2 separate regions of the Homo sapiens genome follow, and region 1 is linked to region 2. Evidence: fine-mapped QTL for protein levels in blood plasma. A gene starts in region 2. The other region holds a variant in brackets. All regions are shown on one strand. Distances are between the middles of the regions.

Evidence for each region. PIP is the chance, under the fine-mapping model, that this variant and not a neighbour inherited with it causes the effect. Protein levels are from the aptamer-based SomaScan assay of Sun 2018.
Region 1: its variant is fine-mapped to the plasma level of the SEMA7A protein (Sun 2018, PIP 0.95).

Annotation. Positions count from the first base shown.
Region 1 is chr15:74,256,906-74,272,785 of GRCh38, forward strand. CCDC33 (coiled-coil domain containing 33) reads left to right here. Exons shown (of 19, transcript NM_025055.5): 3 at 5,535-5,668; 4 at 9,773-9,882; 5 at 11,437-11,553; 6 at 14,798-14,889; 7 at 15,866-15,880. Among named protein-coding and RNA genes, the nearest start is that of CCDC33, 29 kb to the left of the region's middle. RefSeq lists enhancers at 6,396-7,228, 7,229-8,059. The variant G/A (reference allele first, on the strand shown) is at 10,954.
Region 2 is chr15:74,419,956-74,434,499 of GRCh38, forward strand. It overlaps SEMA7A (semaphorin 7A (JohnMiltonHagen blood group)), which reads right to left and starts at 14,003. Exons shown (of 14, transcript NM_003612.5): 1 at 13,786-14,003. The coding sequence starts at 13,963. RefSeq lists enhancers at 1,638-2,269, 2,973-3,267, 9,057-9,146, 9,767-9,846, 9,887-9,986 and 1 more and silencers at 13,166-13,285, 13,436-13,585, 13,636-14,145.

The sequences.
Region 1 (15,880 bases), 160 kb before region 2:
GTAGTGGTGGGGTGGAGGAGCAGCATCCTTGTTTGACAGGAAGATCTTTGCCTTTGCTAGAGTGCTTCTCAGAGTTTCTCGGAAGGTGCCCTTTCTTTTTCCCAGAGCAGCCCCCATGCCCTGCAGGCAAGGGCAGGGGAAGAGCTGGGCCCTCAGGGACTGGGAGCTGCTGGCCTCCAGTTGGTGCCCTCCTTACTCCAGAGTCAGTTATTCTGTAAACTGAGGCCCACCTGCAGTGTTGTAGCACCATCAGGAATTAGTGATGCTTCATTAGAGTCCAATTAATAAATGAAACCCAGGATGAGAGTCCCTCGCGTTGCTGAGAATAACAGCCCTGCTCATGCCTTAAGTGGCAGCCTCCTGGGGCTCAAAACCCACAAGGACCAGCTGCCCTGCCGTCAGCATGGGGCTGGGGGAGGCGGCAGCACAGACTGGGGGCCTTGTCAAGGCTGTTGTCTGGTGAAGCGGGGGCGAGAAGAGAAGGGAGCTTCAGCACTGACTCCCTGCCTCAGATCTCAGCTCCTCCTTTGAGGAGTCCCTGGGCACAACCCCCTGCCCAGCAATCCCAGGGGAGCTTGGCTAAGGCCAGAGGTGTGAGGGCTGGGGCTCTTCCCTCCTGCCTGCCTGGCTTCAGAAGACACTGATTGTGGCCACGGCAAAAAGGGGCCTTGAGAGGGACTCGGGGGAGAACCACAGCCTCCCTCTCCTGACTCCCCCAACCCATGCTCCGAAGTCAGCACCTGCATCAGCCAAACAGCCCCCCTCAAGCCTCACCTTCTCTCCTCTAAGTGGAAAGATCCTCCAATCTATCTGTTCAAGCCCTGCCTTCTCCAGGTTTAGGGTCAGAAACACAGGAACCCAGACTTTGGCCACCCCATTCAGATGACTGTCTCTGCAGAAGCCAACTCCACACCTCCTGTTGCATAAGACTGGGCTCCTGGATTGGGAAGAGGTCACTGGGTTTTTCAGAGCTTCCAGGAGTGGAGGCAGGCCTAGCCTATGGCCTGGGAGTCTGGCAGCCTCTTGGACTTCTGGAGGATGGGGGAGGCAGGCCTCCCTGGCTCAGAAGTTGGCATGGAGGAAGCAGGTTGAGGAGAATTGCCCTACCTTCTCAGGAAAGATTGAGACCCAACCATTACACCTTGACAGCTGGCCTGCAGGACTGCCAGTTCCCTCACCTCCCTCTCAGTTTCCCAGGTGAGCCAGCAATGGGTTGTGATGGGCCAGGTCAAAGGTGCCCAATACCTCCTATTCCACCATCCATCCACTTAAAGGTCTGCTCCTTATCCACTATTCCCAGTGCCTGCCTGACTTCCCCAGTGCCAGGGGCTTCTGGGAACATCACTCTAGTCTCTCAGGATTTACAAGCCTGCCCAGCCAAGACCCCAGCAGCCACAGCAGATCTGAGTCAGGGCCCTCCCCTTTCCTTTGCTCTCTTGGTGGCTGTCCTGGGATTGGCACTCAAAACAAACCAGGCCGCCTGTGCCCCAGCTTCTAAAGCTCTGCCCAGGAGGCGGCCAGGTCTTGACTATTGTTCATGATTTGAGGCTTTGAGGGAGCCAGAGGCCAACAGGACAGGCAGGGCAGGTGGGGGAGGTGGGCTCAGGTGTGAATAGAAGACCCCAGAGGCAGCCTGAGGACTGGGTAACAAGAGTGGGTACAGTATGGTACTCACACCTCTCTGGGCAGCCTTTGTGCACGTGCATGTGTGCATGTATGTGTGTGTGCATGCATTTGTGCGCATGTGTGTGCATGTGTGTGTATGTATGTGTGGATGTGTGTGTGTGTCTCCTGGAGTGAGGGGGAAAGCGGCTCATGAGCACTCTTGCTTTCTGTCCATCAAATCCCATGCTTTTCCGATGCTCATTTCTTCCACTCACAGCTGCAGCCCCCGGGAACCAGATGACATATTTTCCCTTAGTCATGACCTTGCAGAAGGAAAGCAAAGTCCTTGTTCCCTCCCACTCACAGCTGTGCTTGAGCCTGGCCCCCTTACACCCTGCTGGGGTGGGGGCCCCAGGAATGCCTAGCTGGGGACTGGAGTTTGTCAAAGACACACACACCCTTCCAGCAGCCTGGAGGGTAGGCCAGGTTGAGGGAGGTTTATGTTTTCCTGCAGCTTGGTCTCAGGGCTGCTGCACTCTAAACCCAACTCCAGTCCTATCCTGGCATGGCTGCCCATGCTGTGGCTGGATTAAATCTGGCCCCGAGACAGCAGGCACCACCCACTAGCTCCTCCTGGCCCTGGATGCCTGGAGCCAACGGGTCCAAGTCAACAGGGCAGGTCTTTGGGGGGACAGGGAGGGGGGTCTCTCCTTGCAGACAGCCTGTGGAGAGGCCTAGGGAAGCAGGTCTTGGTGAGGTCCCCTGGGTTCTAAGACTGCATTGGGAGCCCCGAGAGAGCCTGGGGACCTGGAACTCAGCCACGTGCCCATCTGCGGGGTGCAGAATGGGGCTGGGAGCAGGGAGTGAGCTCATCCCCTGCTCCTATTCTGTGAAGAATCAGAGGCCCTTCTTGCTCTCCAGATTCTAGAATAGCATCAAGACCCGGAGGAGTCAGCTGTGCCAGGAAAAGCCATTACCCCGAGAGCCTCCCTCCACCTGCTAAAAGCCTCCCCCTTCCCCTGGGGCCTCCCCCTCCCACCCAGTTGCTTTATCTGCACTCACCTAGCCCTGATGACCTTCATATTAGATGGGGCAGGGAGGTGGGGAAAATAGTTGCTTAACTCTTTCTCTGCTGGAGGAAAGTCAGCACCTGCTCCCTTGCCTTGCCCCGTCACCTTTACCCACCTCTTTGCACCTGGGAATTCCTCCTGCCACCCTCCCAGGAGGGTTGGGAGGATACGAGGACAGTAGAAGACAGGCTGGCATGGGGTTCAATCTGAATCCTGTCACTATGTTGCCTGTGACTTCACACCTTCATTTGTGTCTTCTCTGTGCACACAGAGCCACATGAAGATCCCTGGGAATCCCCCAGGAATGTGTCCATGCAGGTGCAGTTTTGTGTCCAGCTCTGGGGTTGACATCTGGGTGCAGAAGGACTGACTTCTTCCTGACACACCCTTGGCGCTTCTGCTTTTCTGCTGTTTCTGTGCAGGTCCCTGAGGAGGGAGGCTGTGAGGCCTTATTGTGCACTAACTATATATCTATAAGTAGCAGATCGGGTGGCTGGGTAGCACAGGGAGGCTGCTGAGAGCCTGAGGTCTCTGACTTTGCTGGGGCAGCTGTCAGGAGCGGGAGCCTAGGCACAGAGCGTCATGGGAGGTACTTAGATTGCACCCCTTGGTCAAGCATGGTCACAGAGCCGGAGGGAAAAAGGGACCCGAGGGTGGAGGGAGCAAGCTGAGCGCCACGTTCCTGCCAGGCTTCTGCCTTCCCTCTCTAGCCTGGCAGCCTCCCACACACCACTTTGCGGGTGTGAGGAGTCCATTCTGCAGAGCCTGCAGGGGTGTGTCTGGATGGACGCTCATCTGAGAAGGACTCCGGCTCTCTGGGAGATGCCCCTTCTCACCCCAGCTTGTACTCAGTGCTCCTTCCCCTTCATGCTGCCCTCAGGCAGGTCCTCTTGCAAAAACACCCAAGCTGTTTTGTATCACAAATGAGGGAATAACATGAACTGGGGCTTTCTGGATGCCAGGAGCTGAACATGCTTTCTTTCCAGTCCTTATAACACTCTCTCAGGGCGGTACTATTGAAAAAGGAGGAACTTAGTAGGTGCAGAGGGGAGATGATCTCGCCAGGATAAACGCGGGCTCCAAACCCAGCTCTGAATCATTCCCAAGCCTGTGCTCTTTCCAGGATTCCACACCTTGGCCCGAGCAGCCAGACATTCCCAATTGTAGACCCAGAACTGGGGGCATGATGGGGAAAAATCACGCCACGGCAAAGGGGCTGGTCACAGGAGGGTCAATAAGGCTAAGCTCTCTGGTGCTATGGGGTAATAACAGGAATCATATTTATATTTTAATAATTTAAGGTACTAAGAATTATTAACACTTTCTTGGTACTTAGCAATGTGCCAGGCACTACACATATTCATTCGTTTCCTTCCCACAACCGCCCTGCAGGCTGGGCACCGTTAGCATCTCTGTTTTATAGATGAAGAAAATAAGGCACCACAGGTTCTGTACCTTGCCTAACATCACACAGCTGGCACGGGGTAGAGCTGGGATTTGGAACCCAAAATGCCCAGCTGCAGGGTCCTTCTTACAATCACTGTGTCATACTGCCTCAGTCAAAGCACAGCAGGAGTCCTCAGTTGACCCCTGGAACTTGGAGATGGAACTCCTGCAAGCATGGTCACCCACAGAAGAAGGGCTCCTGCAAGCATGGTTACCCACAGGAGCAGGGCTGTGATGAGTGGGAGCAAGGAGCCAGGTCACAGCGTCACTTAAGTCTAAAGGGCAGAGGGAACAGTGAGGGCCGGGGGACTCCAGAGGGCTTCTTGGAGGAGAGGAACAAGCTGGGCTGGGAAGAACCATGTTGGTATTGCTAATGCACAGAGAAGGTGGGGTCTGAGCCAACTGGCCTGCCCCACACTCCCTTTGGGGTCCTTGAGGGTGAAACAAGGGCTGGTGGGGATGACGTCTTTGTTCCCATCCTGGGGTACCATTAGTGCGTCTTGCCTCCCTCCGCAAGGTGTGTGGTGTGGCTCCCCCTGCTACAGGATCTCTGGGATGATTCCTCAGCCCATGACTGCTGCAGTTAATGGAGCAGCGCTGGGGATGGCCCTGGCCTAGTAACCTCTTCTACAGAAGAAGTATTCACTCTCTCCCTGAGCCGTTTGACGGCTCTGGATCTCCGATATCTGTGGGGTGCACTGGGATGCAGAGGGCCCAAGCTTACCTCTCACCTTATACAGCCTGGTCCTGAACAATCTGAGTGCTTGAGGGCTGGAAAGCCCTTTCCACCACCCCCTGCCCCCAGGCCTGGACCCAGCTCCAGGTTTCCAGCTCCAGGGGCCCAGCCCAAGGCCCTGCACACAGCAGGCATCTCAGAAGGCAGCAGGATGTGCGTGCTTCATTGCAAGCATTTAGAACTGGGATTGCCGGGTGGAGCCTGGAAATCTGGGCCAGAAGTTTAGGGAAATAAGGTGAAGAAGAGAGGACAGCCAGGCGGGGCATCGCACAGCCACTCTGCCCAGAGGATTCCTCCCACCGAAACAGAACCTAGAGAAGAGGGAGGCCATGCACACGGGCTCCTGCTGGAGAGCCCTCCCTGGCAAGGGCTAGGAAGTCAGGCGGGCAAAGCATCTACCCTCTACCCCCATCCCTACCCCTGCCCTGAGCCTCTCTAAGTGAGAGGCTTGTGACTAAGTGAAGGCCTCAGTAGTGGCCAGCGAGACAGTGTGGTCACCTGGGCTGGCAGGAGAGCTGGGGGAGAGGCCTGGGATGACACAAGTGTCTATGCATGGGACAGAGCTCTCCATATTCTGTCCACCTTTCACTCAGATTTATGGACAGTGGAGCCTGGGATGGGGACAAGCAGCAGACAGAACCCCTCCCTTTGACTCACCCTGCCCCTGCTCTCCCCAGGAAAAGCACATCTGAGGAAAAGAACAATCAGAGCTCCAAGGCAGTCACATCTGTGACCTCAGAGCCCACCAGAGCCCCTATCTGGGGGGACACGGTGAATGTGGAGATCCAAGCTGAGGATGCAGGGCAAGAAGGTAAGCAGGGGCTGGGCAGGGCCGGCATGTGCAGGCAGGGTGTGAACACAGCCAAGGACTTAGAGCAAGAAGCAGGCTCCCTCTCACTGCAGCTGGTAGCCACCTGAACACCTCCTTGGGCTCAGTTAAAAGCACTTAGAAAAAATCATAATACTGTCACGCCTCATCTCCCCATCCTGCTCGAAAAATGAGTTGTTCCACATAAATGAATTTTCCAGACAATGCAAGCTTATCTTTTTTATGACTGTTGTTATTATTTTCATGGCTGTTATTAGCGCTGTCTCCTACTGAAACAGGACATTACAGCTTCCTGGCACGTCCCCACACATCACTCATTGGAGTCACCACCTCCCAGGAGGAGCAATGCTGCTCCCATTGCTTAAGAGAACATCGAGGTTCAGGGAATTTAACTGGCTTAAGCTTAAGACCAAGGACCAAGGACTCAGCATTGCATGTTCTTACTGCAGCTCCAGGGTTCCCGCTGCTTCCATTTGATTTTTTAAAAAATATTTGAAATGTCCCTAGAATGGATCCCTATTCCTGCCTAGTCCTCCCCAGGTGTCAGCCTGAGCCACGAGGTGCCCATGTACACACATGCATGTGCACACTTATATTTACTTTCACACTGTGGGTCTGTTGGATTTCCATTCTCCTGGGGGAGCTCAGGCTGGACACAAGGGAATACTGATTGGCTGATGCCCGGGTAGGGGGGCATCGCATCTGGCACTGCCAGCACAGACTGGAGGTGCCTGGCGATGTCTCTGATCTTATCTAGTCAGGACCTCAGACTTGCTTCTTGCAGGTGGTCTCTCCCTGAGAGGACAGGCTTTGCCTCTCCCCCTTGAAATCTTGCCAGGACCTAGACAGATCTCCTTGTTCTCCTCACACAGAGCAGAAAGCCAGCTGAAGACTATGGGAGAGGAGAAAGGAAACAGGAAGGGGAGCCTCCGTAAAAGGGGAAGGAGCTAGTTCTAGGTCAAGCCAGATAATTTTTCTTTTCTGCCTGTAAAGGGATAGGTGGAGCTGTTGGGATGCTTTAAGAAGATGCAAAAGAGGAGGAAAAATTGACCTAGGATTTCATGCAGAGGCACATGCGTGCCTGTGTGTGCATGTCTTTGTGAATGCCTGCATGCTGGTTCATGCGCATGTGTGAATGTGGTGTGTGCTGTGTCTGTACTTGTAGGCATGCATGTCTGTGTGTCTTATGTGTGTGTGCGCGTGGGTGTGTCTAGCTGCAACAGTGTGGTTATATGTGTGTCTGGATGAATCTGGATGGTGGTGTATGCCTTGCAGTGCACAAGTATGTATAGATCGTGTGTGTGGCTCTGTGTGTATGCATGCATGTATTTATGTGGCTGGTGGGAAGTTAGAGGTTATGATGAGTGGACCTGAGCTGGGATCCTGCCCTGGGCTCTACATACTTGGGGTAACAGAGGAAAAAATGTAATAAGGTCAGTGACCCCAGGGCCCATCTGTGCAGCAGAGAGAGGGGCAGGACTAACTGCAGGAGGGACAAGAGAGTGGGGAGGCCTCATGGGCAGGCAGGGAATATTGGCAGGCATCTCATTGCAGATTGAAGTAGCTGGATGCTTGTTGGAACCGGTTGCTGTGGTGATGTCTGCGGTGGGGGTGGGGGAGATGGAGGCCAGGCCAAGAGGCGGGGGAAGGGTGGGAGGTAGCTCAAGGATGTGTTAATGAAAAGCAAAGGGGAGTTTCAGACCCTGTGTCAGGGCCAAAGCAGGCGGGTGGCAGAAATAGCTTGTTGGCCACACAAAGGGAACGGTGGGAGGCCGGAAGGGCACAATGCCCAGAGAGGAAGCTGATGAAGTGTGTTTGTAGCATGGAGACAGGAGCAGGGAGGAGTGGCTGTCCATTACCCCCAATTCCAGCTCATCTGCTGGCTGCCCACACAGAGCTCCAGGAATAGCGGGTGGGGAAAATGTACGGCACTCACCTCTCGTTCAACCTTGGCAAATCCCAACTGGATCTGGGGACTCTTGGTCCATGGCGAGTTGGCATAAGGGGCTTCAGCCTGCACAGCTCCTCGTGGTGCTTTGGCTGGGAGCACTGGAATCTCCCAGTTGAATTTCCTCAGGTCTGCCTACATCAGGGTTTGTGTTTGGAGAGCTGCAGATGCTTAAAGAGAAGGAAAATAGTGACAACCACGAGGAGCATTTGCACAGAATGTTACAGCTTGAAAACACACTCTTCTCCCTACAACAACCCAAGGGGAGAGACAAGGCTTTTTATTAAAGTGTTGACATTTTGAAGAGCAGAAACATGAAGTTCAGAGAGGTTAAATTACTTGCTAACAGTCACAGAGCAAGTTAGTATTCTGGTACTAGAACCCAGGTCTGCTGACTTCATATCCCTTACCTCAATCTCCCTTCTTCAAGCCAACCTCAACACCTTCAGTGCCCTCTCCCCCTTCTTTCCTTTGAGCATGGATCCCATATGACAAGCTCTTGAGATACCTTGGCAAGTGTTCAGGGTCGCTGTGGGGAAGACAGAGAAAGAAGAATACTTAATAAAGCCCTCAGCTTCCTTCTCCACCCCAACATCCAAATGACCCATCCAGTTCCAAATGACCCATCCAGTTCCAAATGACCCAGCGGCTGAGCCCGCTGAACCTGCTGAGCCCTCAAGGGCCAGCTGCTGTCCCTGGTGCTGAAACCCCTTGTCTCAAGAGAAGCAGAGGGCAAGGGTCTCCCCAAGTGTTTCCCTCAGGCACACCCCTCCGCCCCATCCTCCCTTTCCTGTTCTCTGTTTTGTATCCTTTCTTACCTCATCTCTCTCATTCTTTCTCCATCCCTCCTCTATCCTTCTCCTCCTTTTCTCCCTCCCCATCTCTTCTTCCTCCTGAAATCATAGACTTCCAGAATATAAAGATGCCTCAAGTGTCACCAAATTCAACCCTTCCTATCATCTACTTTCTAGATGTGTTATGTTGATCAAGTTATATAACCCTCTGAGCTCCATTGTTCATATTTTAAGAACAGAGATGATGATACCTACCCGGGGGGTTGTGGTGAGAATTTGTTGGAATCATGGCTGAGACATGCCTGGCACATAGTAGATACTCACTAAATAATCATGACAGTCCCGCTCACTAAACAGGACTGTCATGATTATTTATAGGACATTGGTGTTCTTCTTAAAGTTTTTACCGGCCGGGTGCGGTGGCCCATGCCTGTAATCCCAGCACTTTGGGAGTCTGAGGCGGGTGGATCACTTGAAGTCAGAAGTTTGAGGCCAGCCTGGCCAACATGGCAAAACCTTGTCTCTACTAAAAATACAAAACTTGGCTGGGTGTGGTGGCGGGCACCTGTAATCCCAGCTACTTGGGAGGCTGAGGCAGGAGACTCTCTTGAACCTGGAAGGCAGAGGTTGTAGTGAGCTGAGATCATGCCACCACACTCCAGCCTGGGTGACAAAGTGAGACGCTGTCTCAAAAGAAAAAGTTTATACCAATATTCATGCCATTTTATGAGAAAATATAGTCTCTTTGGAGGGTGTTTACTAAGTGGTGCATTATTCTTAGTATTTAGACTAGTTTTCCCTTACTTGTAGTAGACTTTTATTGATAGCTGTATTAAAGGATTTCCTTGAGCAGATCACTTTTTCTTACTGAAATTCAGTTTCCCCACCTGCAACATGTGTGAGATAATCTCTCCCCATCCTGCCTCAAGAGCTGGCATAAGTGTTTGTGACCAAGGGAAAGAGTCTTATTCCTGGAAAGAGGTGCTATGCCTGCTTGCCTGTGTATCTCAGTGTGTGCACATGTGTGTCTGTTGCCACAGGGGACTGGACTCAGTTCTGTGTGTGTCTATCTCTGACCTGGGAGTTTCTAGACCATGGGAGAAAATTGCATGTTGGGGTCCTAACAGCTGCCGGCATGGAGCTTTGCCCTGTGCAGGGGCTCAGACTGTGCTTGTGGGTTTGTGTGCACAGGGGTGATCCACACATGTGTGTGCATGTTGATTCCTCAGTGTGGCCCCTGCTCCCTACTCTCAACAATGTCTCTCACCTCTCACTGTCTCTCCTTACTGGGAGAGAAAGGGATCCATTTAAAAATAAACCTGGGCTCATTTTTTCTCTTTCCAGATGTGATCCTCAAGGTGGTGGACAACAGAAAGAAACAGGAGTTGTTGTCCTACAAAATCCCCATCAAGTACCTGCGTGTCTTCCACCCCTACCACTTTGAGCTGGTGAAGGTGAGTCAGAGGCCTGGGGAAGTGCCGGGAGAGCAGGTGGGAACCACCTTGAATGTCCCCAGCTATTCCCTCGGAGCAGCCCTGAGCATCCCACACCCACCCACAGCATGACAAGTCTAGGACCATGTGGGGCTCAGGAAACATGGCTCCTGGTACATACACAGGAATGGTGTCTACAAGAATTTGGAATTCTCCAAATTCATCTCTGTAAAAACAGCTGATTATTATAGGACAACTGCCACATTAAATGAATATACCAATTAAAGATAGATTTTGATTACAAAAATGTTAAAAGAGCGGATCTAAAAATCAAAGAAACACAATATTTACCGAGTACCCGCTGCTTGCACGCCCTGTGCTAGACATTTCACACCCCCTCTCTAATCCTCAAGGTAAATTACATTTTGCAGACATGGGACTGGGACCTGGGGAGAAAAATCTCCTCCTCCTGGGTCACAGAGCAAGTGAGCGGCAGAGTTGAGGGTGAGCCCAAGTCATGCTGTCTCCCAAGCCAGTTCCTTCTGAGCTGCCTCCACATGCTGCCTTGGCCAGAAGGCCCAGGAGAGTTGGGGGGTACATGGAATAAAGCATTCCCTGGAATGCACCCCTGGAGTGAGCAACTGGGTCCAAGCCATGGACTGAGGGGCCTGAGGCTCCTCACTCCAAGGTTGGGCCTCCCAGGCCAGACCCCTGCCTGTCCTCCCTCCTAGTGCTGAAGGGTAAGGGGTAGAATTCACTCTCTCATTGCTCAAGGACTTATGAAGCACCTACTATGTGCCAGGTAGTGAGCCAGAGATGAACAGAAGCATCACATTCCCCTCCCCACTGTGCATTCCAGACCCTGAAAGTGGTTGAGAGTAAAGAACAATGTGAAGCCAGACTGTCGGGGGTCCTAGACCAAGTTTGTTGCCTCCTAGCTGGATACCCATGGAAGCCACTTGGTCCCCAGGCCTCCATCCTCACTGGCAAAGCTGGCACAGTCGTTTTGAGGATCTCAAGCAATGATAGGCAAGGTTCCTGGCATACAGTAGGTGCTCAGTTTGGTCAGTTACCCTCCCCCATCCCTCCTCC[G/A]GGCCAGCACTGAACTTTCTTCTAAGCATTTCTTCAATCATGGCACCAGGGGGCTTTACCTTCTCTTAGGCCCCATGAGGAACCCCAATCCCAGGGCTTCAGGATGGGCCATGCAGGGAAGTAAAAGAGAGATGTGCTACTCACCCTGGGAGACTCAGCACTTGAGCTGTAATTCTGGGGGCATCACCCAGGCCCCCTGGCTGTCTGTTCACTTACAACCCAGGCCTTGTTATCACATCTTTACTGGAAAGCAGACAGGCAGTGGTCCTTGTGAGGGTGATGAAATATTCAAATGGAAAAGGGAAGATTTATTATATTGATCTCCTTGGAAGGGCTCACAGGGACCATGAGCTTTAATTATCAGCTCGGAGCCCCAGCGGAGCAATGCCAAGTGATTGTCTGCAGAGGGCTGGATTTATGGCCAGGATCTGCCCCTTAGACACTCTCCTTCCTCTGTGTCTTCTGCCCCAACCCTGTCTCCAGCCCACTGAGTCTGGGAAAGCCGATGAAGCCACTGCCAAGACCCAGTTGTACGCAACAGTCGTTCGGAAGAGCAGCTTCATACCCCGCTACATCGGCTGCAACCACATGGCTCTGGAGGTACCAGGGCTGGGGCCCTCTGGGGTGGTGGTGGGGGTGGGAAAGGGCCAAGCTTTGAGCAGGCCCCACGCCTTGCCCTTAGCCCCCTCTGGCTGACCTGAGGGTGTGGAGCAGAGATGTCAAGAATGGAAAAAGCAACCAGGCCTTTCCAAAATAGCAAAAGGAGTTGTGAAGACAAGCCCTTTGGCAGGGATGACAAGGATGAAGATGCTCAAGCCTCTTCTCCTTCCCTCTCTGTCTTGGAGGTGGCGGGGAGGGGCTCAGCCACACTGCTGCTCCTGGTGTACCGTCTCTGTGCTGCAGTGGGGACCAGAGCCTGTCTCCCCGAATCTTATGCTAGGGGCAGGGGAGAAGCCCCGTGCTCCCCCTGAGCCCACAGCCCAGCAGTTTCCTGCTCTATTCTTCCCCTCCTGGGATAGTGCCTTGGCCCCCAAGCAAAAGTTTAGGGCCTCCTTGAGCTTTCCTTCAGCACTGTGTCTAAAGAGGTTTGACTGGTCTGGCGATTAGGTATTTAGTTTATTCATTCATTTATTCATCCAGCAACTGTTTACAGAGCCTCTTCCATTAGCCAGGACAGGGCTGAGCCCACCTTGGGCCTGGCCACTGCCCCTTGACCCATCACCATCCACCCCCTAGGCCAATTAGCAGCTTTGGGAGGAACTCTTGATGCTCAAAGCAGACATGATGCAGGGACCTGGCCCCTCTCCCATTCCCCCCAACTTTCAAACTGCCCATGGGTGACAGATTCAAATTCAGCTATGGCCTGAGTATGATCAGGGTGGGAGCCACAGGACCCAAGCTCTGAGCTTCCACCTACCCAAACATGGCTGATCTGTTCCTATCCTTCCCACCCCCCTACTTCCCACCAGCACCGTGGGCCTGGCAGGGAAGGAAGCATTCTTTTGCCTTCTTTCACAGCCAGGGACACTGAGACCCAAGGGGAGTATGGTATGGGAGCCAAAACTCCTAACCCACATTTCTACTCCCCTACAGCCACCCCTCTGATGCCAGCATATCAGACCTACAGGCGCCCTCTGCTCCCCGCCACCTTCTATCACGCCCTTTCCTGAGGACAGCCAGCAATTCACACACACACAGAACAAGGAAGAGGGGCAACAGCCTGGCCTTGCTGTCCCCAGGCCGCACCCCACAGGGAGGAGGCCACATCCCCAAGACACAGGCAGAACTTTAGGGCTGCTGTGGAGCTGCCCCACCCCACCCAGCCCTCTGACTTGCCTGGTAGAGCGGTAGAGTAGGGGCCTTCTCTGGCTCACAGCACCCTGCCCACTCTCCTGCCCCAGCACAGATGCCCTCTCCATCCGTGCGACAGGTATGGCCACAGAGCAGCTGCCTGCTCCTGATGGTGAGCGCATGGCAGGAGCAGGAACTTCTGCTACTTCCCAGGCTGTCATGAGCAGGTGTACTTGGGCAGCTGTCTCATTCACACCTGATCAGAGTCCACACAGAACAGGTGCAAATTAGCTGCCACCACCCCCTTTTTAGTCTTACACCTGCTGGGGAGCCTGTGAGCAATAGGGCCTGCCAGCCTCCAGTGAAATCCCTCAGCCCCAGACCCCAGACCCATCCAAAGTGTGAAATGTACCATCAGAGATTCAATCCTTTGAATGTGATGAAGGGATTCAGTCTCCAGAGCCCTCAGTGAGAGCTGCGAGGCCCTAAGGACTATTGTACGTGCCCATCAGCTCACACCTGTGTGGGGTTAGAGGTGGGAAAACCAGCTGAGATGGGTATTGAAAGAGGAGCCTGAAAGGAGGGTGCGGAGGGAGAAAAGGGAGAATGATCCAGAACAAGCCTCACTCCTGGGCCCTCGCCAGCCACAATGGGTTGGTGGGAGCTGCAGGGAGTCTGAGTAGAGGGATCAGCATGTGCAAAGACCCTGTGGCAGAAATAAGAGGGGTAAGTGGCAGGAGTAAAAGAGTCTGGAGCAAGAAGACAGGGGCTGGGGGCCTGTCGGGAGACACGGCAGAGGGGCTTGTGGGGTGTCGGGCAGGGAATAACGTGACCCAGTTCATTTTTAACAAGAGCACTTTTGCCATCATGTGTCAAATTGCCTGGGAAAGAGGATGGATTAGGGAAAGGAACAGAAGTGGAGAGGCTAGTGAGGAGGCAGAGGAATCGAAGGAGCAAGAGGAATGAGAGCCGAGTGGGAGGTGGGTGAGGGCTGAGGGAGAGTGGGAGCCATTGGTGGATACAGGGTGAGGGTCAGGGTCCGGGAGATCAGGGCCTCTTAGGCTGGCAGCAGAGGCGCATGGGGACAGACTCCCTGTCTCCCCTGTCTGCCTTCCAGTGTCCCCCAGGCCCAGACTGAGCAGGGGGTCAGTGAGGGTTGGAGCAAGGTGACGCTGTCCACTCCTGCTTTGTAACCTCCTGCTGGGACCCCGCTCGGCTCTCTGAAAGCTGCGCCAATAGAAGCCTGGAGTAGAGGAGAGGGCAGTCAGGACTGGGAGGCAGGGAAGCCTTTAGGGGGTGACAGAGGACTGAGGAGGGAACAACCAAGGGCGGTCAGGGGAGTGACAACCGGGATCTGATGAAGAAAGAGGAGCCCAGAGATGCGGATGCTATGATCCTGTTCCAAACCAGTACTTCCTGGGGAAACCAGCAAGGCAGGAGAGCAGGCACCAGGGTGAGCAGTGGAGCAGGCACCAGGGTGATGGGCACGAGGGAGGCAAGGGGAGCCTGGCTGTGGCCGCTGATCTCAGGAAGTTCAGCATGGTCGGAGAAACCAGACCTGGGCTTCCTGTCTTCAGTTTATAAAGTGCTCTCTCACAAACGATCTAATCAGAGACCCCTCACAGCCCTGGGAGGAGCCTCATTTGACTGACAGAAACCAAGGAGCTGGAACACCTAGCCCTACCCCTAGCCCAACCCCTCCCCAGGAGCCAGTGGAGGGGCCGAGGTTAGAACACAACCTCCCTTCCCAGGACCCAACTCTCATCGTACCCTTTCTCCCCAAAGAAACTAGTGTAAGAGATCCATTGGTAAATCCCAGGACAGAAAGCGGGAGCAGTTGCCTCAGCTCGGCAGAGAAGGCTTCCTGAGGGAGGGCAGCCTGGTGCAAAGCAAGAACCGAGTAAGGCAGGGAACAGGGAGAAGCAGGTGTCAAGTGTGGAGGCAGCCATGAGCTCACGGATGGGGAAAAAGAGGGTAGGCAGTCTGGCTGGCTGTCTCTGGAAGGTCCCAAGGCCACATGGTGTTCACCTGCCTCCTCTCCTCTCCTCTCCAGATCTTTCTCCGGGGAGTCAACGAGCCCCTGGCCAACAACCCCAACCCCATAGTGGTGATTGCCCGGGTCGTTCCCAACTACAAGGAATTTAAGTGAGTGGGGCCCAGGTGGACCTGGGTGAGGAGGGCAGAGCAGAGGGCAGAGGAGGGGGTGAGGCTGTCATTGCTGCCATGGGCTGATTCCAGGACCTCCGGCAACCCCTCTACCCCTAAGGCCCTTCAAGCCTCTCCATTGGGTCTGAGGTCCCAGTAAGCTTCCTGCAGCAGACCATGCCTTTCTTTCCCCAGGGAGAGCCCAGGCCCCTGGAAAGGGGCAGCTCAGTCCTCTCCTGAGAGCAAGCTGGAGGGCAGGTGGTGGGGATGAGTGCCGATACCAGGCCTAACAGCTAGAGAGTGTGGGGAGGACAACAAGAGGGGTCCTCATTCCCTGCTCAGGGAACCTCAGCCCCTCCAACCTGCCTCCCTGCCTCACACCCACCACCTCCCCACTCCCCCTCCCACTCTAGCTCAGGGCCACAGGCTCCAGCCAGTGGTTGGCCCCAAAGGCCATCTTGGAACTTCACAGCCTTTAGCCCTGCCGGGCGGAGTCTCCTCCCTCCTCATCCTGGAGGTCTCCCTGGTCCCAGCCACAACTCATCCCCTCCTCCCCTAGACCTCCTTTTGAGTCTGTTGGAGTCACAGTCCTCAAGAGGAGATTCATACTTTGCCACACAGTGGGAAATTCCCCTATGAACGTGTGCTCTCTGCCACAGCACCGACTCCTGGGAGTCAGGGTCTGTCTTGGTCACTTCCAACTGGCCCTGATGGCCCAAGATGACTCCCCTACTTCTCTGTATCTCCTGTTGAGTTTTTATGACTTATGAAGCCCCCTTGCTTGTTGGAGGAAGGAAGATGATTGATGCACGCCCAGCCCAGTGGTCCCCACTTGTCGTGAGGTCCAGGCCCGAACTCGGCGGGATCCCTGCAACTCCCTTCTCTTGCATCAACCCAGAGTCTAAGCGGGGGGCCCTGGGCTGCCAGGCTCAGGTGCAGAGCCCAGAGCACTGACCCTGTCTCCCTGCCTCCCCAGGGTCAGCCAGGCTAA
Region 2 (14,544 bases):
GCCTGTGGTTGTGCCCCCAGCAATCAGCCACACCCAGCATCTTCCCACCTCTGACCAGCCTGGGCCTCACCTAGGAACTGGGTCTGACCACTGTTTTTTCAGCTGCAGGAAACTCTGGGGCAGCCAGCTTGGCAGTGACACCCAAGCTCCAGCTCTGACCAAAAAGAACTACCATTTCCTCAACTCTGCCCCCGATCCCTCTTATTCCCATTGGAGCCATCCCTATTGATTCTGCATTTAACAGGGGCAAGGAGCAGCTGGACCACACACTGTGCCACCACACCTTCATTCTTTAAGAAACATCCCTTCATGGCCAGGTCACCCCCGGAAGTGAGCATTCTTCACCTCTTCTGTGGCCTGGCGCACTGTGCAGAGAAGAATGCTGAGGTACCCTGGGAGACATGCCAAGGTCACACCAGCAGGCAGGACACATTAGCTTGTCCCAGGCTGCAGTATCAGTTCTCAGCAGCATGGCAGGCTACAGAGAGAAGTGCTGAGCTCACTGTCCTTGGGTGGTGTGGCTCTCCTGGTGCACATCACAAACAGCCCAACTGAACAGCTCCGGGGATATCAGCCCTCCCTGGCCCCCAAGCCTCCCTCCCTGTAGGCCCGAGATGTGCAGAGCAAGGGCTGAGAGGTACTGGCACTTCGGTGGGAGGGAGGGAGAGCTGGCAGGTCTTGGGTGCTGCCCTGCTCCCCCTCCCTTCCTGGGATAAAATTAGAGTGCTGGGGTCACAGACACAGTCTTCCTGACTCAGCTCCCGTAACTCCCCTTCCACCCGCAGCCCAAACTGCAGCCACCATCCTCTGTGGCCCAGCCAGAGATCCAGACAGTCTGCCGCCCCAACTCCCCTCCTGCTCCCCTCCCATCCACCGATAGCCAGACTGGCAGCCAGGAAAAGGTGCGTGTCTGCATCTAGAGATGCTGGGCTAGGACCTGAGATCCATAGTCCCTGGGAGTCAAAGCAGAAAAGTTCTAGCCGTCAGACTGTGCTAGCCACCTTCATCAGTCACCTTAGCCCCACTCCTGCACCAAGGCCACAGGCCCAGGTCTCCGAGGGGGCCGGCAAGGCCAATGTACAACTACTCAAGGGAAAAGAGGCACCAGACAGGACTCTGGGTGGGGGCACCCTGGTCTAGGAATTGCAGGGCTGTTGAAGAGAAGAGGAAAACAGTCCTGCCCTGGGGAGTCGAGCCTGATGGCAGAGACATGACTGGGTCCTGGAGAGCAAGGTCTGAGGGGGAGGTCTGGCCCTACCCTGGGAATACATCTGAGGGGTCAGACAGCCACACCACAGAAAACTTCCACAGCTCTCCAGCAAAACTGTCTTAGCATGGACCCCAGGGCTGCCCACAAAGTATCTGCTGAAGACATGAAGGGAGGGTGAGGGCTGCTGGCCCCTGGGTAGGAGCTGCAGCACTAGGGCCCGGACAATCCCATGCGGATCTGCAAGCCTGAGCCCAGTTCCCTTCAAACCCTAGCCACAATGGCTAGGGTGGAGGAAGCAGGGACTGTTCGTCCCATTTTGCAGGAAAACGAACAGGAGCCCAGGACCACGGCCTCCCATGACCCCCAGGTTCCTGGCCCTCCCACCTCTGTTCTTGGTGATGCGTATGGACTAGAGGGAATGACACCAGCTCAGCCCCAGGACAAGGCCTTGGCCCATTCTCCACCCCAGCCCCAGCCTGGGCTCCCGCACCGCCTGAGGCCCTCAAAAGGCCTGATTGTGCCCGGGAAGTGTCGAGCAGCAGCAGCTCGATGAATACATGAAAGGAAGCTTTGTTCAGGTTGGCAGGAGCGGGGGCTGGGGGCTAAGGGGCAGGAGGGCTGCCTGGAAGTGAAGGCAGCACCAAGCCATCAGGGCCAGGCCTCGAGTCTCTGCCCAGGCAGGGGCTGAGCAAGGCCAGGGGCTACCCCTAAAAAGGCCAGGCCAAGGGAGTATGTATCATATCCCTGAACATTTTCTTTGTGATGCTTTATGAACCCAAACGGAGAGGTGAGGTAGATAAAAGCTGGATGGGCCCTGAACAGGCCGGGAGGGAAAGCCAGGCAGAGGACGCAACCTGAGCAAAGGTGGGGAAGGTGGCTGTATGGAGGACAGAGGCCATGCGCTGCAGCCTGGCAGAGTCCTAATGAGAAGAATCGGGAAGGTGAGCTGAGGCCCACGTGTGATGGGGGAGGGAAGATGCAGCCTGTCCAAGGACACACTGACCCACTGCCCACCACTCTCCCCTGCTGCCTGAACCTACGAGCAGGGCCAGGAGTGGAAAATGCCTCCCCATCCTCTGGCGTCCCCCACCTCCTGGCTCCCCCTGCTTCCCATCCTGCTTGTCTAAAAGGAGCACCGTCTGGCACCGTGTCCCCCCCTCACTCCCCAGCCTGACGCATTAGTGGCTAAGTGGTAGCTAAAAGCTCCCAGAATAACCAGGGGCTCAGGTAGGGGAGGGGGCTAGGGACATATGGGGAGGGCATAGCCCAGAGGCAGGCCAGGAACAAGACAACCCACCTCCCGCCCCATGTGATTCCGAGCCAATCCTCACTCGTGCTGGACCAAGAAAGCACATTCAGGCTGCCCCGTACCCAGCCGGACTCCATAGTTCCCCTGAGTACCATTTCTCATGGTGGCAGGGCCAGCAAGGCCCAGCTCCGGCCAGATAGGAGGGCTGCAAGGATGGCTGGGTTGTAGGAGATAACCTCCACCAGACACAGCCGCAGGGCCGGGTGCTCACAGGGCTCTGATCCCATTGGAAAGAATGGGGCCTGACTCCTTAGGGACCCTACCCTCGATCACCACCCCAGCAGCTGACCGACTGTGGCAAGTCTGGGCCTCTGGCATGCATTTCCTAACTCAGGCCTGCCTGGTGGAGCACGTTTCCTCTTCTCATTCACTCTGGTGCTGTCACCGTCTGGCCCGCTGTCCCCATACTCTTGTTGTTTGTGAAAGAGGAGTGCAGCTCCAGGGGAGGGCAGAGTGGGAGGTGTTGTTGTCCATGAAGGGGCTGGGTCCCATGCTCTGGTCTGGCAAAGCCAGCCTTGCAACCTGACCCACTGACCCAGTGGGCCTTGAATGTAACCTCAAGGAGCCTTTTGAAAGTGGGCAGAGAGTCAGGCTCTGAAAATGGCAGGAATGTGGGCACCCCCACAGAGAATGCCTAAGTCAGGCAGTCAGAGAGGCCCCGGGCCAAAGAGCAGAAAGCAGGCCGACCTCAGGTTGGAGAGCCAGCACATCTGGCAGGAGCGTCCTCCCACAGTTGTGCCCCCACCCCTGCACTGCCAGGCCTACCTCACACCCTCGCCCAACTACGTGTCTGGAAAAGAGAGTAGAGGGAAGGCCCACGTGATGCCTAGGAATTAGCCTGCAGCCTCTCCACCCTTTGGAATCCCACATCCACATGTCAAGGTGGAAGGGAGAGGATCTAAACAGTCATTGAACTGAAGGACACAGAGGCCAGAGAGGCTGTACCACCGGCCCAAGGACACAGAGCGAGGGAAGCTCCAAGTTTCCAGTACCCATTACCCAGCTGCTTCTCTCCAGGATCACATCCTGGGCTTCCTGGAGAGCCTCTGATTTGCAAAAAGCTGTATATTCAGCCTCTCCCTACTTCCCTGAATCATCCCTACTCTACCCTTCCCTCTCTTGCTCACTAGGTGCCGAGTCACTAACCTGATAACTAAAGGGAATCACCCGCCCACCCACCTTCCAGGTGAGGCCCTGATCTCCTAGGGGCCTTTAGTGATCAAAGCCTTAAATCCAAAGGAGTGACTAATGGTGGAAGTGTAGGTGCCGTGCATGTCAGAGTGGTAGAGGAAACCCTTCCACTAGGGGTGGGAATACAGGAACAAATGTTTCTGTCTCTCCTGATATGGCCAGGAAGAGGGTGTGAGAAGCCTGGTTTCCAGGGTGGCACCGGCTCGGTGCTAAGGATAGGTCATGGTTGCAGGTGGGTCCTGGCAACTCTCAGGCAGGGTTAGGTTCTAGATTAGCTAGTCGCCTGGCAGGGGCAGAGCCTGTGTGCTGGGGCAGGTGGTGGGGCCTCGAGACAGCACTCAGCTCATGGAGGACTGAGAAGTCTAACTTGTTTATGAGCTATGAGAAGAGCGAGCTGTGTGCTGGGCCAAAGGGGAGCATCCTCCCACCCACCAAGGTCAGCTGTGGGTGGGAGGGGAGTATATCTCATGTGTGGCTCAGCCCTGGCTCCAAGAAGCCTCATTATCTCTTTGGTGGCTGGACAGCTGGCTGGCTGTGACGGTGATTGGGGCTGGGCCTTCCTGGGTTCATTTTCCTCCCTGTGGATTAGCTGGGTGCGAGTCAGGGTGGGTGCTGGTACTTGTTTGGGCCTGGGTTTTATGACCCACCAGGATTCTTGAAACAAATCACAAAACAATCAGGGTGAAGTCCATGGGTCTTTTTGGGAAAGTGTGACTCTCTGAGTGCCAGAGAAGTCAGACAGTTTTCTGGAAGTGGAGGCAGCAGAAGAAACTGACATTCTCATCTGCTTCCACTGACCAGCCCACCAAACCTCCAGCCACCCTGCAAAGAAGGCAGGACAACCTGTATTGCCGTTTTACAAACAGGAAAACTAATGCCCTTCCAAGCCACCAAGGTCTGGATGCTCTCCCCATGGCACCACTGTGCTCAAAGGACCAGAAGAAGGTTTGGCTATTGGGGAGACTGTCTGGGGCAAAGTCCTAGGGAGAAGGGACAGTGTGGAAAGCAAGCCCCTTGGTGAGAGGCTGTGCTGAGCAGGATTCAGGGACTCAGGGAAGGAAGGCTGGCACTGAGGCCCAGCTGGAGTGGGTAAGATGCCCTGAGCCCACGCCCAGGGAAGGCCGGAAGCCCAGGACAAACATCATGTCCCATCTACCTTCCAGCTGTTCTCCAGCCCAGCAGGTTCCAAAAGCCCCAGAGTGGGGCCGAAGTCGCTGGTGGCTCCTTCAAAGCAGACAAAGGGTAGCGGTGCAGGGCCTGCCCTTGGGCCCACAGCCAGGGCAGGGGTCGGGGAGAGGGCGGAGAATGGCTACACAACCCCAAGTGGAGGGAGGGAGGCAGGTGGAAGACTGCTGAGAAACAGAAGGTTCCCCAGTCTTAGCCTTAGCCTGAACCAGCAGGGGAGACTGAGCAAGGGCAGCCAGCCAGCAAAGCCCATTAGGGAGAACTGGCAGGGGCTGGGCTGCCAGGGCTGCATTCCATCAGAAACCAGAGATGCCAGAGGAGGAGGAGGAAGATGATGACGACGATGATGATGCCCCTACCACCCAACCCTTCCATCGCATTTACTACGTGCCAAACACTATTCCAAATGATTTTTAGATATATTAACTCATTTAATCATCACTGAACTCTCATGAAGTAGGTTCTTTTATTATCCCCATTTTGCAGATGAGGACCATGAGACACAGAGAAGCTGAGTAACTTACCCAGCATTACACAGCTAGTAAGGGGTGGAGCAGAGGTTCATACTCAGGCAAGCTGACTCCAGAATCTGTGCTTATAACATCGTATTCCAGAGATGAGCCCTTGGAGGCTTCCAAGGTCAGCCCTTCCCAGACAGATGAGGAGACCAAAGCCTACCGAGGGTGAGGCCCAGTTAGAGGCTACTTGGCTAATGAAGTCCTGACCTCTGCCCGTAACACCCTGAAGACAGTGTGTGCAAGTGAGCACAGGTGTGCAGGCCCAGGTGAATGTAGTGAATTCCTATGCTTTGATGTTGCCCTGGCATCCGTTTTGAATATAAGCTGGGTTTTCTCACACTAGAAGCAGGGCTCAGTCAACCTTGACACCGTTTCCAGCTCCCCACCTCCTCCCAGTTCCTCCATGTGCTCAATCCAGATATCTACCGTAGACAGTCGTCTCCTGGTGACTGCTTCCCTGTGGGATGGCTACATACAGCCCACTTGATTGGTCCTGCTGACCTTGTCCCACAGCCCGCATGGACTGTGCAGATAGGCCAGTGACCTTGTCTCAAGTCACAACATGACCTCCTGGAACTCATGACTGCTTGCTGTAAACCCACCAATTAAAACTCCCCATGGAGGCCAGGCACAGTGGGTCATGCCCATAATCCCGGCGCTTTGGGAGGCTGAGGTGGGCAGATCATTTGAGGTCAGGAGTTCGAGACTAGCCTGGCCAACATGGTGAAACCCCATCTCTACCAAAAATACAAAAAAATTAGCCAGACATGGTGGTGTGCGCCTGTACTCCCAGCTACTTGGGAGGCTGAGACAGAAGAATCGCTTGAACCCAGGAGGCAGAGGTTATAGTGAGCTGAGACCACGCCACTGCACTCCAGCCTGGGTGACAGAGCAAGACTCCATCTCAAAACAACAACAACAACAAAACAAACTCCCTGTGGAAAACTTGTTTTAATAACACCATGGACCCCATAAAGATGCTGGCCCATAGATCCCCCCACCCTGCACATGCTCCCTGACCTCCACCTGTGTGTGGCTTCAGGTACACCAGGTATCCCTCAAGACCTGTTAGTAACAAAATCTTTATTTCCACCTGCCTCTCTCTTAATCATGGAAGAGGTGCTCTCCATCTTAAAGATCCTAAGTTACAACAGTGGGGCAGGAATCTTCTCGAGGTGCAGCGTGGGGCCCCGGTCCTGAGTGACTGATTAGAAAGACAAGTCTCCCAAGATCTCGCTCAGAACATAAAGTACTCTGTGGGGCCGGGTGCCATGGCTCATGCCTGTTATCCCAGCACTTCGGGAGACCAAGGCAGAAGGATCACATGTGTTCAGGAGTTAGAGGCTGCAGAGAGCTATGAATGCACCACTGTACTCCAGCCTGGGAGACAGTGAGATCCTGTCTCTAAGAAAAAAAGTACTGCATGCTCTGAAGCTGACCACAGTGAAGGGCAGAGTGTGCTCACCAGCCAGGTCCCCACTCAGCCAGCCCTGGCGAAAACACTCACCTCCACTCCTCAGCTCAAGGACCCACCATGGCTCCTAACTGCCCATCCAAGCAGGGCCCAAAACCTCAGGGCAGGGCAGTCAAGGCCCACCTCATCTCTGCACAGCTCTGCCATGGCTCATTTCCATCTCTGCACTTTGCTCCTGTTCTCCCCTCCCTGGATTGACCTTCCTCCTTTTCTCTGTGCACATGGATCTTACCTGTCCTTGAAAATGTAGCTAAATCCCTTGGATCCAGGAAGTATTCCAGACTGCTCCAGCCCTCACTGCCCGTACCTTCGACCTTGTACCACAAACCATCTGGCACCACCATCTTCGCTCAGATCATGCTGTCTGATGGGATTTCATCTGGCCTATGGGGCCCTGAAGGTGAGGACCAGGCTTCCTCTTGCTCCAAGTCTTCCATTCCCAGGGAGCAGCTCAGACAGTGGAGAGAAGCAAGACTGGGGCAGGCCAAACTCCCATGCCAGAGGGACAGGTATCTTAGAACAGATTCCTGGGCCACCAATGGAGTGCAGAAGTCATCACAGTGACCTTCCTTCCTCGACAGGCTGGGCCAGAGCTCCTGCCTCAGCCTCCCAAGTAGCTGGGATTACAGGCGTGTGCCACCACACCCAGCTAATTTTTTTGTATTTTTAGTAAAGACGGGGTTTCACCATGTTGGCCAGGCTGGTCTCGAACTCCTGACCTCAACTGATCTGCCTACCTTGGCCTCCCAAAGTGCTGGGATTACAGGCGTGAGACTCTGTACAAACAACAATATGAATAGCTGTCTATGCTGCACTCTGCCCCCACCCTATGCTCCTGCCCCTAGCTCTAGCCTGGCTCCTCCTCCTCCCCCAGGAAGCCTTCCTTGATTGCACCATCCCACACTGACCTTTCCTGCTCTCACCTCCTGTCACAGTCCTAGGCTACATCTGCAGGTCATTCCTGACCTCCCCAGGGGTCCGCCCTACTTCACAGGCAGAAGACTCACCTCTCCAGGAATGTGGGGGCTCCCCAAGGGCAAACCCAGGGCTTCTCTTCCTGCCTCTCCCCCAGAGGAGCCGAACACAGACCTAGGCTGGCTGCCCTCCATGATGAGGGGTCACCCAGGGGTGCTGGCACAGAGCCCAAGCCTCTGGCTGGAAGCATGGGGTGCAGAAGGCATGGCAGGATCAGCATAATCCCAGGCTGTCATGACAGTTAAAACCTGATTAGCCCGAGCCGGGACACAGATCAACCTGTCCTTGGGACCTGAGGCCCAACCCACCTGAGGAAAGACCAGAAGAGGTATATGGAGCTGGTCCAAATCCAAGGTCCTGAAGAGAGGACACTCACAGCTGGTGTGGCTCCTGGGAACAGACAGCACTGGGGCGGGAAGAGTCTGGGCCCAACTGGGCTAGCAGAGGAGGAAAGGCACTGAAGGGGCCCCCAGCCTGGGACAGAGTATGATGGCAGACAGAAAGCTGGAAACAGGCTGAGAGCTGGGGCAGAAGCAGGCTCAGACGACTCAGCCCCGGTCCCAGCTCTGCCTCTTTGGGTGATCTCGGGCCAGTCCCTGTCATCTCTGAGCCTCAGTTTCCCCATCTGTGGAATGTTTGGCTGGCCCAGCTAATCTCTGACATTTCTTTTCTGACATCCTAAGCTCGCGCTGTCAGGCTGTGTGGGTTGGGGTCATCCAAGAAGGTTCCTCAGAGGAACTGAGAAAGAACCAGCAGCCTCCTTTCTGGGCAGAAAGGAGGAGGAGGGTGAGTGGGGTGCAGAGAGGAGGCGGAGCCAGGGAGCAGTGAGGGAAGAACTGTGGGAGTCTAGGAGGCAGTGGGGCCAGGCCACCATGCAGGGCCTGGGGAAGGCGGCAGCTGTGTGCCATGTGTTCTGGATGGGGTGCAGCATAGGGACAGAGGTCCTCCGGGAGGCTGGGCACAGATCTGGAGAGATGGCAAGGCCAGGGCCAGGGAGAATAAAGGGCTTGGAGAGCCACCCCATACCATTCGGGGCAGAGAGGGGACAGTCCCTCAAGGCCTGGCTGGCTAGGGAAGGGGGAACTCTGTCCTCTGAGGAGGCAGGGCCCAACAAGGTGCCGTGGCCCTCCATCCCCCTGCTTTCTTTCTGGCCTGCCTGGTTCCCTGAGGACAGGACAGCTGGCCATACACCTGGTGGCTGGCCCTCCCTGCAAGGGTACGGAACCCTGGCTCTTCTGAAGGCAGGACAGGTTAAGGGCCCCTTCCTCCCCCAACCATGGCGAAGGAAGGCTCCTGGGGCAGCCACGCTGGGCCAAAAAAGGAAATCAAGAGAAGTGGAAACTTTTCAGTCCAGAGCTGCCGACCAAAGCAGGGGAAGTGCAGTCAGTCTCTTGTGACAGAGCCGTGTGAAGCTGGGGGTGGACAGGCTATCAGCTAGTGGCCCATCTACTCCAGCTACTGCCCCCTGAGGGCTGCCAGACCTGCCCCCTGGGCTGAGCTTCACATCCCACCTTGCTTGGCCCTCCTCAAAAAACAGAGCCCAGCTTTCCCTGCTTCCCCCAGGGCGCCACCCTCAGCCCAGATAGTGACCTATCCATGCCACCCCCACCCTGCCACCTCCATGCTCCTTCCATCTCTGCAGAGGAAGAGCAGGAGAAGACAGAGCTGAGGGACAGACCTTCTCACCTGGAGACTGTCCTGCGGTCAGGAGTCAATGGGGAAAGCCATGGTCTCCCTGGACCCAGAGCCAGCCTCCCACCAGGGAACTGTGACGGGGCTATGGCCTTGCCAGCACTCGAGAGGCCTTCCCTGCCTGCCACGGCCCTTCTCCAGTGGGTGCGTCCTTCCTCCTCACTGCTGCGCCAGTCATAGGATGACAGGTATCCCCTCACCTATGCCCATCTGGACAAGTTTCAAACTTTTCGGGAGCCCCCAGGCCCAGGCTGACTCAACGCCTCTTCACATGGGGGCCCCTCACATGGCTTCTCTCCTCTCTGTGGTCCTAGCTGTAAGTTCTTGGGTTTAAAATCCTACTAAGTGGGGTGCTTCCTCCTGTTCCTTCCCTCCCCCAGCTGGCTCCTCCTCCTGCCATTTCAGCTTGCTCCCTCTTCCAGGAAGCCCTCCCTGATTGGGAAAATTGGGTTAGGCATCTCCTCAGTGCCCATAACTGCTCTCTGTTACACATTCTGTTGTACCTGCAGGTTTATCTGCCCATCTACATCTACACTGAGAAGTCTACAAGGGCACGGAATCATCTTGTTCCTCATCACCAGATCCCCAAGCTCATCCCCAAGACCAGCACAAGGGTGGCCCCGGCAAATGTTTGCTGAATGAATATGTCCACCCTTGAGGGCACATGCTGATGATCCATTTCCTCCAAATGATCCTCAGCCTTTGGCCCACGAGAGAAAAAGATAGGAAAGAACGCGAACTTAAGGGTTTCCCCTGACTTCCCAGGTTTCAATTTCTCCTCCAGATTTCTCGAAATCTAAGATTTAAACAGGCCACCACAGACTCTGCCCAGCCCCTCCCATCCCAGAGAGAGAGAAATCCTAAGACATTAAATCTCAGAAAAGGATGAGCCCCCTCCCCTACCCTCTTTGGGCATTTGGGGAAACTGGGGTTCAGTAAAAGGCAAAGACTTGCCCAGTCACAGAGCAAATTAGGTCACAGCCTGAACCAGGCTCCCGACCTCCCAGCTCTCTCCCCTATACCATGGTCATCATTGGACCTGTGCCAGCGTCCATTCCACCGGACCTGCTCTCAGAATCTTCACTGTCCAGGACAGAGGGGTCACAGAGCTTGGTAGGAAGCTCCTGGTGACCTCACCAAGCATCTCTCTTGGCTTAGGAAACTCCCCCTCTCCTCCGGGGAATTGCCCCCCCACCATGAGACTCTGTGGAGGGAGTTCACCTTGAAGGTGATGAACACATCTAAGTCCCCAAGGGGGCAAGGATTTCCACTGGAAATGCTGATGCTTGGGAAGCCCCAGATGTGACCTCATCCCCTGGAGGAGGTAACAACAACCTCCTGCCCTGGGGAGCAGCCCCAGAATGGCTCCCCAGCAGCCACCAAGTCAACAATAACATCCCGTTGTTTCACTGGACAAAAGCGAGGGAGGGCAGAACCAGCCGGGCAGGTTGAGACTGGGGATATGGGTTCTGTTTCCCCATGGACAGGCTGGTTCACCTCTGACCTTGGGGTTCCAAGCCTTCTTTAGCTCCTCCAACCACTGATAAAATGGAAGAGGGGTGCACAGCTTACAAACGCATGCCAACCTCCTGCTAAGCCCCAGCCCTCACCTGCAATCTACTCCCTTACAGTTCCTGCTTACAGGAAGATCAGGACCACACATGCACATCCTTGACTGGCCCATGTGTCAGTGACAGCCCTTGGGGGACAATCCCTACAGCCTTTCTTGCTCTGGCAGGCTCTAAGGGTCAAAGACAAGTGTGGAGCTCAAGGACACCCAGCAGGTACATGATGGCCCATCTCTCTCCCTGGCCTGAGCTACGCTGTGCCAGACTTTCATCAAGCTGCAGAGGCAGCAATCTCCCTGATCAGTGCAGGCTGGGCCCCTCTCAGAGTTCCCTGCTTTAATCTTTCTCTAGAACTTGGGGATCCAAGCAGCAGAAAATAAAGAACTTTCCATACCTATTCCAGTCCCCACAGCTGTCCTGACTCAAAACTAAAACCCCCATCTATGCCTCATAGAGAAATGGCTCCAGAACCACCACCATCCCTGATTTTGTCATTCCTGGATACCACCATACTCCCACCCACCACTGGTAGACAGAGCTCTAGGCTTCCAGAAAGACCCCCTCTTACCCTGTTCCTGGGTTTGTCCTACCCAAGCCCATTCCTGTCCGATTGCCATGTGTCACCCCACAGGAGACAGGAGGCAGCTGTCAGTCGGGCACACCATCACCAGCTGGTGGCCCTGGGGGTGGGGGGCAGGTGAATGGCAGGGCCTGTCTGGCCAGTGGGGCACCTGGCACTGGTGAAGGAGACCACAGACTGTCGTTGGACAAGACTGGTGAACGGTTGGCAGACCCCAGCCAGCGGGGCTCAACAGTGCATTACTAAGCAGAGGGCACAGCCAGTGTGGCTACAGCAGTGAACTGCGGGCGGGGGGGTAGGCCATGGAGCTGTGCTGGGAGCTTCGAAAAGTGGGTAAGAGGACTGAAAGCAACTTTAAATAGCCTCAGGGTGGGAACTAAGTGCCCAGGATGGGATGTATGCATTAAGTGCTAAGAAGTGGGTGTGCATTAAGTGGGGTGGGGGTGGGGGGTCATGGGAAGACTTTGGGACAGGCAAACAGAGTCAAAATGCAAGGGGTTTGATGGAGGGAAAGATTCCAGAACACTCAGATGTGGCCATTTGTCCCCTCCAGAGTGCCCACACGCTATGATGTCCAAGACAGCCAAGGAGACTGAGGGAAGGCAAAGCTGCTGGGAGGGCAAAGGAAGCTTGGGCTGGAGCTGGGATGGCAGAGGGGTGTGCAGGCCTCCTCCATGTACAGGCGGCCGGAGCTCTAGCAGCACTGCTCGGCTTCCTCCAGGAGCACCTCAGGCTGGGTAGCCGAGCTGGTCCCCAGAGCACCTCATTCATGGTCCCTGAACCACCTAAATCCTTCTCCCCTCCCTAACCCAGAACCTGGACTGGTCCTGTGCCAGATCAGAGCCCCTGCCTGCACCTGGGCTCCCACACTGCTCAGTGACCTTGGGCAAGTCACATTCCCTCAGCTACTGCGGCAGTTCGGGCCACTCGTTTTGTGTATGGTTTTTTTTCCCCTCTGCTAATAATACCTGCCCCAGATAATGCTCAGACTCCCGCAATCCCTGCAAACTGCCAAAGGCATCAAAAGGCTCCCGGTGGGGCCAGACCCGACCAGTTCCCCCAGCCCCCACTGCGAGTCCCCCACCATCACGACAGGGGGGCCGCAGACACGCCAAATTTGGGGACAGAGCCGAATCGGACTGGGGGCGGGGAGGCATTTGTGTGCAATGCAGGGGAGGGGAGATCAGTTCCTCGCGGCAGAAAGCCTCAAACCCCCGCCTAACCGGCTTTCTGTCCCATAGTACAGGGTCTAAACTGAGGTGCCCTGGGGGAGACTCCAGTCCCCCAGGTTCTTATTATCTACCCTGGCCTAAAGGCTGCACCCCCGCCCTAGATCCACCGCCTGGGGGTCCCAACGGCCGTGCCCCACCCAACGGGCACTGCCCCCCAACGCTGGAGCCGATTTCTGGTGACAACTGCCACGTGCGGGCAAGGGGGGAGCGGCCGGTCCCGGCATTGCTGAGGCAGCGCCCTGGTACCCCAAGCCGCCGCACCGCACCATGTCCCGCCGCTCGCTGCAGGATGCCCACCCCCTTGCCTGGCCCGAGCTCCGGGCCGGGGCGGGGGCGGGGGCAGGCGGCGGGGTCTTTGTTCCCGCTGCCGAAGCGCGGCGGCGGCGGCAAGGGGTCCGCGCCCCCCTTGCCGGCCCAGCCTGCGCCCCGCGCGCCAGCAGAGCCCGCAGCTCAAAAGGAGGGTACCCGGGTTGGGGTCCCAGGCGGGGAAAGGTCCTCCGCCGAAGCCCCCGAGCCAGAGGACCCAGAGTGGCTCGGGGCCGAGAGAGGGGCCCGCCCCCTCCCCTGGCGCCCGGGCGTTGCGGCTCCTGGCTGCCAGGGACTTGGTGCGACTTAGCCGGGGCTCCGGCCCCCGCCGCTCGCTCGCCGCAGCGTTACAGCCGGCTCTGGTGTGCCAGCGTGTACACTCACACACACTCACCCAAACCCACACGCTCCACGCGGGGACAGCGCGGGGACAGCCCGGGACCCGCAGAGCTGCGCGCACGCACTCCCTCCGGGTGCAGCACACTCCGCACCCGCCCCGCGCAGCGTCTGATCCCGCGCCTGACCGGCCGCGCGGCGCCGCCTACCTTTCCAGACGGCGAAGATGCGGGGTCCGCTCCTTAGGTGGCCCTGGGCGGAGGCGGCGGCCGCCCAGAGCAGCAGCAGCAGCCGCAGCCGCAGCGGAAGCCCCAACCGAGCCGGCGGGCCAGGGACGCGGGCGCGCGGTGCGCTGGGGGCGGCACGTCCGGGCGGAGGAGGCGTCATCCCGTGGCCCCGGGAGCGACAGCGGCAATCAGCCGAGACTGAGCCAGCGCCCGGCCGCAGGCAGACCCAAGCGCCAGGAGGCGGAGCCAGCGCTGACCCCACCCCGCCCCTCCCCCCGCCCCTCGCAGCCTTTTCTCGCCTCACTGGCTTTCCTGAGCGAGAGCGGAACTGCTGGGGGAACCTTCGCCACCCTCTCCCGGGCAACTCTACGGGGAAAGCCCAGCTGCGGACAAGCCAGACTTGTGGTCTTCTGCCAGGGGCGGCAGGCCCTATCCCCTCTCTGGGCCTCAGTTCCACTCCCCGCACCCCGTAAAAAGATTGGCGTAGAAGTCGTGGAGGACCTCTCTCCAAGGGCGCAGAGGAGTCCAACACCCAACAACCTTGCTATGGCCAGCTAAGTGGTTCGCACCCTGAGGACTATGGTCCTCGGAGGATGCGTTCGCCTAAGTGGACACGGCTCCCTGCTGAGCCTACCAGCAGGCACAACGATGATATGTGGGGAGCACTCAGGGACCCGCTGTTGCTTTGCCTGGGAGAACACTGGAAATTTTTCATCTTGGCCTGGCTCCTTCCCCTCCCTC